2 separate regions of the Homo sapiens genome follow, and region 2 is linked to region 1. A link means that fine-mapping ties the variant in region 1 to the expression of a gene that starts in the linked region. Tissue or cell type: monocytes. Region 1 holds a variant in brackets; the other region holds the start of a gene. All regions are shown on one strand. Distances are from middle to middle.

What was found. PIP is the estimated chance that this variant, and not a neighbour inherited with it, causes the effect.
Region 2: PRLR starts here. The variant in region 1 is fine-mapped to the expression of PRLR in monocytes (Quach 2016, PIP 0.95). The same link has a PIP of 0.9 or more in monocytes after LPS and monocytes after R848.

What each region holds. Positions count from the first base shown.
Region 1 is chr5:35,491,789-35,497,050 of GRCh38, reverse strand. No RefSeq gene overlaps it. Among named protein-coding and RNA genes, the nearest start is that of SPEF2, 120 kb to the left of the region's middle. The variant C/T (reference allele first, on the strand shown) is at 2,299.
Region 2 is chr5:35,228,604-35,233,603 of GRCh38, reverse strand. PRLR (prolactin receptor) reads left to right here and starts at 3,117. Exons shown (of 10, transcript NM_000949.7): 1 at 3,117-3,336.

The DNA.
Region 1 (5,262 bases):
TGCACTGTGGTCTGAGAGACAGTTTGTTATAATTTCTAATCTTTTACATTTGCTGAGGAGAGCTTTACTTCCAAGTGTGTGGTCAATGTTGGAATAGGTGTGGTGTGGTGCTGAAAAAAATGTATATTGTATTGATTTGGGGTGGAGAGTTCTGTAGATGTCTATTAGGTCCGCTTGGTGCAGAGCTGAGTTCAATTCCTGGGTATCCTTGTTAACTTTCTGTCTCGTTGATCTGTCTAAAGTTGACAGTGGGGTGTTAAAGTCTCCCATTATTATTGTGTGGGAGTCTAAGTCTCTTTGTAGGTCACTCAGGACTTGCTTTATGAATCTGGGTGTGCCTTTATTGGGTGCATATATATATAGGATAGTTAGCTCTTCTTGTTGAATTGATCCCTTTACCATTAAGTAATGGCCTTCTTTGTCTCTTTTGATCTTTGTTGGTTTAAAGTCTGTTTTATGAGAGACTAGGATTGCAACCCCTGCATTTTTTTGTTTTCCATTTGCTTGGTAGATCTTCCTCCATCCTTTTATTTTGAGCCTATATGTGTCTCTGCATGTGAGATGGGTTTCCTGAATACAGCACACTGATGGGTCTTGACTCTTTATCCAATTTACCAGTCTGTGTCTTTTAACTGGAGCATTTAGTCCATTTACATTTAAAGTTAATATTGTTATGTGTGAATTTGATCCTGTCATTATGATGTTAGCTGGTTATTTTGCTCGTTAGTTGATGCAGTTTCTTCCTAGCCTTGGTGGTCTTTACAATTTGGCATGATTTTGCAGTGGCTGGTACCGGTTATTCCTTTCCATGTTTAGTGCTTCCTTCAGGAGCTCTTTTAGGGCAGGCCTGGTGGTGACAAAATCTCTCAGCATTTGCTTGTCTGTAAAGGATTTTATTTCTCCTTCACTTATGAAGCTTAGTTTGGCTGGATATAAAATTCTGGGTTGAAAATTCTTTTCTTTGAGAATGTTGAATATTGGCCCCCACTCTCTTCTGGCTTGTAGAGTTTCTGCCGAGAGGTCCGCTGTTAGTCTGATGGGCTTCCCTTTGTGGGTAACCCGACCTTTCTATCTGGCTGCCCTTAACATTTTTTCCTTCATTTCCACTTTGGTGAATCTGACAATTATGTGTCTTGGAGTTGCTCTTCTTGAGGAATATCTTTGTGGCATTCTCTGTATTTCCTGAATCTGAATGTTGGCCTGCCTTGCTAGATTGGGGAAGTTCTCCTGGATAATATCCTGCAGAATGTTTTCCAACTTGGTTCCCTTCTCCCCGTCACTTTCAGGTACACCAATCAGACGTAGATTTGGTCTTTTCATATAGTCCCACATTTCTTGGAGTCTTTGTTTGTTTCTTTTTATTCTTTTTTCTCTAAACTTCCCTTCTCACTTCATTTCATTCATTTCATCTTCCATCACTGACACCCTTTCTTCCAGTTGATTGCGTCAGCTCCTGAGCCTTCTGCATTCTTCAGGTAGTTCTCGAGCCTTGACTTTCAGCTCCATCAGCTCCTTTAAGCACTTCTCTGTATTGCTTATTCTAGTTATACATTCGTCTAAATTTTTTCCAAAGTTTTCAACTTCTTTGCCTTTGGTTTGAATTTCCTCCTGTAGCTCGGAGTAGTTTGATCGTCTGCAGCCTTCTTCTCTCAACTCATCAAAGTCATTCTCCATCCAGCTTTGTTCCATCGCTGGTGGGGAGCTGTGTTCCTTTGGAGGAGGAGAGGTGCTCTGCTTTTTAGAGTTTCCTGTTTTTCTGCTCTGTTTTTTCCCCATCTTTGTGGTTTTATCTACTTTTGGTCTTTGATGATGGTGATGTACAGATCGGTTTTTGGTGTGGATGTCTTTTCTGTTTGTTAGTTTTCCTTCTAACAGACAGGACCCTCAGCTGCAGGTGTGTTGGAGTTTGCTAGAGGTCTACTCCAGACCCTGTTTGCCTGGGTACCAGCAGCAGTGGCTGCAGAACAGCGGATTTTCATGAACCGCGAATGCTGCTGTCTGATTGTTCCTCTGGAAGTTTTGTCTCAGAGGAGTACCCGGCCGTGTGAGGTGTCAGTCTGCCCCTACTGGGGGGTGCCTCCCAGTTAGGCTGCTCGGGGGTCAGGGGTCAGGGACCCACTTGAGGAGGCAGTCTGCCCGTTCTCAGATCTCCAGCTGCATGCTGGGAGAACCACTGCTCTCTTCAAAGCGAGGAGGCAGTCTGCCCATTCTCAGATCTCCAGCTGCATGCTGGGAGAACCACTGCTCTCTTCAAAGCTGTCAGACAGGGACATTTATGTCTGCAGTGGTTACTGCTGT[C/T]TTTTTGTTTGTCTATGCCCTGTCCCCTGAGGTGGAGCCTACAGAGGCAGGCAGGCCTCCTTGAGCTGTGGTGGGCTCCATCCAGTTCGAGCTTCCCAGCTGCTTTGTTTACCTAAGCAAGCCTGGGCAATGGCGGGCGCCCCTCCCCCAGCCTCGCTGCCGCCTTGCAGCTTGATCTCAGACTGCTGTGCTAGCAATCAGCGAGACTCCGTGGGCGTAGGACCCTCCCAGCCAGGTGAGGATATAATCTCCTGGTGCACTGTTTTTTCAGCCCATCGGAAAGCGCAGTATTGGGGTGGGAGTGACCCGATTTTCCAGGTGCCGTCTGTCACCCCTTTCTTTGACTAGGAAAGGGAACTCCCTGACCCCTTGCACTTCCAGAGCGAGGCAATGCCTCGCCCTGCTTCGGTTCGCGCGGTGCGCTGCACCCACTGTCCTGCACCCACTGTCTGGCACTCCCTAGTGAGATGAACCCGGTACCTCAGATGGAAATGCAGAAATCACCCGTCTTCTGCGTCGCTCACGCTGGGAGCTGTAGACGGGAGCTGTTCCTATTCCTCCATCTTGGCTCCCCCCCACCGATGCCATCATTGTTATAGAAAAAGCTATGAAAACCATCAAGTCAATAAATAAAACAATAAATTTCTGCTGAAGAAAACTGTTTCTTGATGTCGTACATGACTTTAGCAGATTTATAACAGAGCCAATCAAGGAAACCATAAAAGAGATTGTGGATATGGCCAAAAAGGTAGGGGGTAAAGGGTTTCAAGATATGGATATTGGAGAAATTAAGGAGCTAATACACTTAACACCAGAGGAATTAACAAAAGATGAGTTGATGGAGATGAGTGCTTCTGAACAAGTGCCAGATGATTAGGAAGATGTAGAAGATGCAGTGCCAGAAAACAAACTGACATTAGACAATCTAGCAGAAGGGGTCCAATTATTCAAGAGGGCTTTTGACTTCTTTTACAACAAGGACCCTTCTAGGACACAGACACTGAAACTAAAGCAAACAGTTGAAGAAGGATTGATACCATGTAGAAACATTTTTAGGAAAATGAAGAAGCAAAAAGTAAGAGAAAATACAATATATTTCCATAAATTTACACAATTTGTGCCTGCCTCTCCTGCTTTCCCTTCTACCTCCTCCACCTCTTCCATCAGAGACAGCAAAATCAACCCCTCCTCCTCCTCAGTCTACTAAACGTGAAGATGAAGAGGATAAAGACCTTTACGATGATCCACTTCTACTTAAGAAATAGTAAATATATTTTCTCTTCCATATGATTTTCTATAACATTTTCTTTTCCCTAGCTTACTTTATTGTAAGACTGTAGTATATAATATACACAGAATAAAAATGTATATTAATCAACTGTTAATGTTATTGATAGGGCTTCCAGTAACAGCAGGCTATTAGTAGTTAAGTCTTCGGGGAATCAAAAGTAATACACAAATTTTTGACCACACGAGGGTTGCCACCCATAAGCCCTACATTGCTAAAGTGTCAACTCTGTGTGTGTGTGTGTGTATACACAAACACACACACACATATATACACTTATATAATATACACTCAACAAACACAGAAATACACACACATATAAGATGTATATCTTTCTATGGTTTTTGAAAGTAAAAATATTTTATTTTTTAAAGTTTTTCTTCATAAAATGACCTCAGGGAAAGATACTGGTTTGTCTAAAAGCTGTGAACCAAATATCCCCCAATTGTTCAAAGTGAAGAGTGATGTCATTCTTACTTGATAGTGACCAAAGAAGAGCGTAAACTGGGTATTTACAAATCCATGCTGCATTAATCGAACGGTGAATCTCCTTTCAGTATCTTACTAAATAAGATTGTTCACTTGGGCATTTTTGCTTCTTGGCACATATTGGAGTAAGCAGAGTCATCTGTTATTTTGTGATGTTCTTACCTCTGGTTTCTAAAGTTCTGAGAAAAAAAATGCAAGGAGGAGAATCTAATATTTATTGAGTTCCTAAAACATGCCAGACTGTATCTTAGGCATAATCCCATATTTTATCACTGATTTAATCTTCATAATAACCCAATGGAATAAGATATTATTATAATCTCCATGAGATCATCAGATTGAGAAGATCAAGGCTAGGCAATTCACTCTGCCTGTCCAAGGCCACATAGGTAGCAAATTATTGGGCCATGAATTGAATCTAAGACCATCTAACATAAGGCTCAGGTTCTTCATGTATTCCATCTCACTGTCTTTTATATTAGGACACAAATCAGATTAGGGAACATTTATGGAGAGACTTGATCCAAAAATATAGTTCTCTTTATGGAAGAAGAACTCCTTGAATTGATGAATGAATGTATGTTCCCCTGTGTGTGGGAGTGTGTATTCCTTTGGGCTATTTCTATAGACTTACCACACAGTAGTTAATTCTCCTCTGTGTTTAAAAGTGCTCAGGTGAAAGCTTGTAATAAGTACCGTGCTAAACTATTCTCTAGGTTGTCAAATAAAACCCAGATACTCTAAGAAACTACAGCAAGAGCCCAGATGGATCACTGAAATAGGTTTCACCCCTCTGGAGAGTCTCAAAAATGCAAATAACTCATTTAAACAACAGCTCGTGAGCTGACTTATGCCAGTTCTTCTCTAATTAGATGTGTACTTTCATTTAATGGGAGTCAATGGGAAGGAATAGTATTTAGTGAGATCTGCCCTCAAGAATAAAAGAAGGCAGCAGAAGTTAAAGGGCAATTTCTAGCTACCAATGTGCGTGGGATAAAAAATAATTAACTATAGCTATAAGAGTTTTGTAAAGTGGATTAGTTTTGTAACTTCTTAATCTTTGAGACCTTGCTTTCTTCTACTTCTCCACAGTGATTAGTATGAAAACCTGTTAAAAGCAAAAGGCCTGTGGACTGGTGTAGCTTGTATTGTAGCCTGTACTACAGTGGCTTCAACTAAATTCTGAC
Region 2 (5,000 bases), 260 kb after region 1:
AGCTTCTTCTTTCTTCCTTCTCCCTTTCCTTCTTGACCCTTCTTGCCTATTAACCTCTCCACTCCTTAAAACCAAAAAAAAAAAAAAAAAAAAAGAAATGTGGTTCTCAAAGAAGACAAATGAAGTAGCAATGATAAAACTCCTTCCCTATTTGAGAAGGAGGAGAGAGAAAAGGAGCCACGGCAGAAACCAACAGAGGAATGCCACAGACAGAGGGGAGGCTCCCGCCAGAGGATGGCAGAGGCCTGGAAGCCAAGGCGTGAGAACTTCAAGAGGAGGAAGTGAACCGAAGCCCAGTGCTGCAGAGAGGCCTGGAGGGCCCTCCCAGAGAGCAGCCAGTGAGTGGTAGTGATGAAAGCCAGGTGCAAAGAATTCAAGGGAGCCATTTTCCACCCTGCCTGTGCATTTTTGTAAAAACAGAGAAGTCAGAGCCCCATTCTAAACCTCCTGCATTAGAAGCTCTGCAAGTGACACCCAGACACAGTACATTTTAAACACTCAGGTGATTCTTGTTCACAGCCAAGGTTGAGAACCAGTGAGTTAAGGCACTGAGAGGGAAGTAAGTAAGGAAAGCTGGTGTGCGTAAGTCATTCTTTCACTAAGATTGGCAGGTAAAGAAATGAGTGAATTAAACTGTAAAGCCATCAAAAGGGTCAAAGAAGATGTAGAAGTTGTAGGTTGAGATAAAGAAGCCTATGGGGCAGAAAAGATTAAATATGCAAGAAAGGTAGAGGAAAGGGGAAGGAAAGAAAGGAACTTGATGTTTCTAGACTTTGTTAGATGGCACACATTTTACATATGCCATCACCATTATTATTCATTTGACTGGATTTTTGAGGCACATGCTACTGTGTCCAATTTACAGTGAGAAACCAAGAATAGCAAGGACCTAACCCAGTGCCAGTGCTGGGCTCTTCCTCTGCATCAGGCTGAGAAGCAAGGTCTTGGAGGAAGTAAACGGATATGGAGTCCAGGACTCAGGTAGGGAGTCAGCTTGCAAAGGACGAACACGTCCGCTAAGACAGAGATGCAGAAATGAACTAGAGGAGGACATCAGTAAAGAAGCTGTGAAGCTGGAGCACATCAGTGCATAGAGAGAAGGAGATAGTCAAAGAACCACTGTGGGGCAGAAAAGGAAAATATAGTGGCTCACTGCGGATTTCATCATCTCAGGAAAGCTGGGGCAAGGTAACTCACTGACAATGAGTACCCGTGGCTTTGTGACAGTGCCTGTGTGCTACACAACAGAGCAGAAAGCCAGCCCTGCCCTTCTTACCAGTGAGGTATGGATTAGCCACGCAACGACCAGTCTGTAAGCCAGGAGTACAGACGAGCCAAGCTGCCTGCAGCTGAGTGGGAACCACAAGGAGGAAAAGCCAAGTCCCTGCCTTCTAAGAGCTGACAGTCTGGAGTTACCCAGAGTGATCTTCTATTTCACTAACTGTTAAAATAGTCTGATTAGAACAACTATTGTAGAATTGAGTGACCCTTTGCTTTGCAAAGGTCATATAGAAATATTCTGCCACTGAGGATCTCATGTCGCCCAGTGGTTCTGAAAATAAATAGAAGTTGCGTACCTTCATGGACACCCATGAATGAAAGTAAATATACCCTAATCATCACAGGAAGCATGTGCGGTCTGCACGTGAAAGATGCATCTCCCATCAGCTAACAGAACCAGGTGGAGTCTATGTTTTAATAAGGACGTGTTATTGATCAGGAAGTATTAGGTTATTATGCCTAGGTAGTTGCTTCTGGGATTCCAGTCCAAAAGGATCACCAAAGCATCATGGGATTTTCAATGGCTTCCTGTGGCTTGGCAAATGCTCACTGCTAACTGTGATTTCCCAGTTATCCAGAGTAGCAGTCAAATCAAAGGGGAAAGCCTCATGTTTCAATAACTTAAAACAAAACAAAAAAAAAAACGGCCAGGCGCAGTGGCTCACGCCTGTAATCCCAGCACTTCAGGAGGCCAAGGTGGGTGGATCATGAGGTCAGGAAATCAAGACCATCCTGGCTAACAGGGTGAAACCTCATCTCTACTAAAAATACAAAAAACTAGCCGGACATGGTGGCACGCGCCTGTAGTCCCACCTACTCGGGAGGCTGAAGCAGGACAATTGCTTGAATCCAGGAGGCAGAGGTTCCAGTGAGCCGAGATGGGGTCACTGCAATCCAGCCTGAGCGACAGAGCGAGACTCTGTCTCAAAAAAACAAACAAAAACAAACAAAAAAAAAAACTCAGTAACCTTGGTTTAAAGTATTTCCTTGGTGGCCCTCTGGGTTGTGTAACAATCGGATGCATTAATTATTATGGCATCAAATGACACCAGCAACATACATAGTCAGAAATAACTATTTGATTCAGGCAGGTGCTATTATTTGTTTCAGCACTGTTAAATGTGGGGTTTTTGTTTTTGCAAGAGAAAAGGCGGTTGTGTGTGGTTTCAAGAAGAAGAAAAGTCAGAACAACATGCAGCCCATTAGAAAAGATAAATTCTTTATTTGTGGAAAACAACAGAAGTGGGGCTATTTAGGCACCGCCAATGTTTATTATATTCATATGGCAGAGAATAAACACAGCACACTAGAAGTTTGCGCTTTGGGTATTAAAAAAAAAAAAAAGCAAAACCTTCTTAGGTCACTGACTATCTTCTTTTGCTCCTTTCTATCTGACTCCTCAGGCAAGGTGCAATTCAAATCCCTGGAGAACCTCTCAAATATAGCTGCTGTTCAATGTTACTCAGAAATAAGGAAAGAAATTTGACACGGAGACACTCCACATCTTGGCTGCCTGGAAAAATATCATCTTTGAGGTCATTCAACTCACTAAGTCATTTTTATTATTGTTTTGTCTGTCTATTTTCTGGTACAGTCTCAATGAAAGATATGTGGCCCTAATCATGCAAAACCGATCTGGGGGGAATCAGTTGTTTCTTCAGGTCTTCGCAGGATTCCAGCTCCCCCAACTACCTCCGTCGCCTTCTAAAACTGGCAGGCTCTGGACGTTTTGCATGCTGAAGAAAATCACTGTTTTGCCTCCAGCAAGGAACATAAATGTTGCAACACTGACTCCTCCTCTCATGAAGAAAGAGTGAACAAGTGCACCGAGTTGAGCTTCTTCTCACAGAGCCACCGGGCTGGGGACCGGGGAGCGGAGGCTGAAATCCCCAGACGCCGGTTTTCTGGGCTGGGCTTTCTGCCTTACTCACTCCTTCTCCCTCTTTCTGGATTTTACCGACCGTTCGCGAAACAGCTTTCCACACAATGGAGCTTCATGTCCTCGTGCAGGAAGTACTCATCGACTGATGTGGCAGACTTTGCTCCCTGGCAAAAGTGAGTACCCATGGCGAGCTGAGGCCGCCTCCGACGGCGCGCGGCAGGGGCTGCGCGGGCGGCCGCTCTCCGGGATGCGGGTTCGAGGCCCGCGTGCTGAAGGGGAGAGCGGGGCCACCGGCGCGGGCTCCTGGAGAGAACGCCAGCCAGGAGCCAGAGTCGGCAGCCGGCGGGGAAGCCCGGGATCCGCCCGCCTCCCGCCCGGATGTCCCTTCTCAGAGGGGCTAAAAAATACTCTTAAGGTGCTTTGCCTCCACCACTGCCCCCAACCCCAGCTTTTACAAACTGCACTCGGCTCGCATTCGCCTTTGTCAAAGGCATCTTCACCTGTATCCTTGAGCATGAGTTTCGGCGTTGATTGTGGGATTCTCAGAATGCAAATTATTTGCGTCAAAATAAAAAGAAAAGAAAAAAAGAGCGGGGAGGGGGAAGGGGCGCAGACAGGTGATGTGATGAAAGCCGGACTCGAGACTCTCCCATCAGCAGCAGCCGCCGCCGCAGCAGCCTCGCGGGCATCCGGCGGGGAAAGTTTAGGGTTAGCAATGCTGACCTGAAAGGTGTTGCTCCTCCCAAAAGTCAGCGGGGGTAGGGGCAGATGAGCAGCCTCCGGGCCAGAAGCCGGAGCTGGACGGAGGCACCTAGGCAGAGGAATTGCAGCCCGGGAGGAAGCTGGAAGGAGAGCCCGCTGGAGAAGGGAGGAGGGAAGGGAAGAGGAGTTGGTTAAAGTCAGGCAAACTCAGGTAACTGGAGGGCCGGCCCGAGTGCTACGGCAGGGGAAGGCAAGGGCTGGAGTTCTGGCTCTTTGAGTAGAAAACTATCCTTTTAGTGACCTCTACCTGTATCCTGGGGAAGCAACCCACACTGCCCTGAAAACAAGCAACGTAGGGGATTCTATGACTGGACTTGAAAATGGTTGCAAAACATTATTATTAGTCTGGAGGGATCACTTTGTCTTCATTTGTCAAGTTGACCGGGCAAGATTTCCCACCTGAAATCGTGCTTCACTTGACCAGGGAAGTGCTGCTAATCCCAATCCTGACCATCAGCTGTGCAAACTTGGGCAAGATACTTACCCTCTCTGGGCTTCGATTTTTTTTCTGCAAAGTTTAGGGAATTAATTAATTATATATATATATTATAGAAATATATATAATATATATATAAATGTTTAATGAGGTGGAAGTGCTGAATAGTGCAAGAGAGGAGCAGATGAAAATATTAATTTCAGTGGTTCTTAAAAATTAGGGGTGATAGGTCCTTTTGAGAATTAGCTGTGAGTCCTCTTCCTGGGGCAAAATGCATATGGCATGTACATAAAATTTTACATGCAATCCCTGAGGGTTTGTGGATACTCCCTGAAAGCCATGCCTGAATCCCAGGTGACAATCCCTTATTCCTCCTCCTGTATCAAGACCACCCAGCCAACTCCTTGCTGCTGGTTGGGCTGACTGTGGGAGTAATCCACAGCCTTCTTGGGGGTCTGGAGTCAGCCACGCTGCTGAAGGAGACAGCTCCCCTGTCATGGGTGAGCTCCCCACATGCTCTCTCCAGAGCTCTACCAGCCTCTGACTCCAGGGGACCCCTCCTCACAACCCTTTTTAATGACTCTCCTAAGGCGACAGTCCTTACCCCTAGAATTTTCAGTCCCACCAACCCTGGAGAGC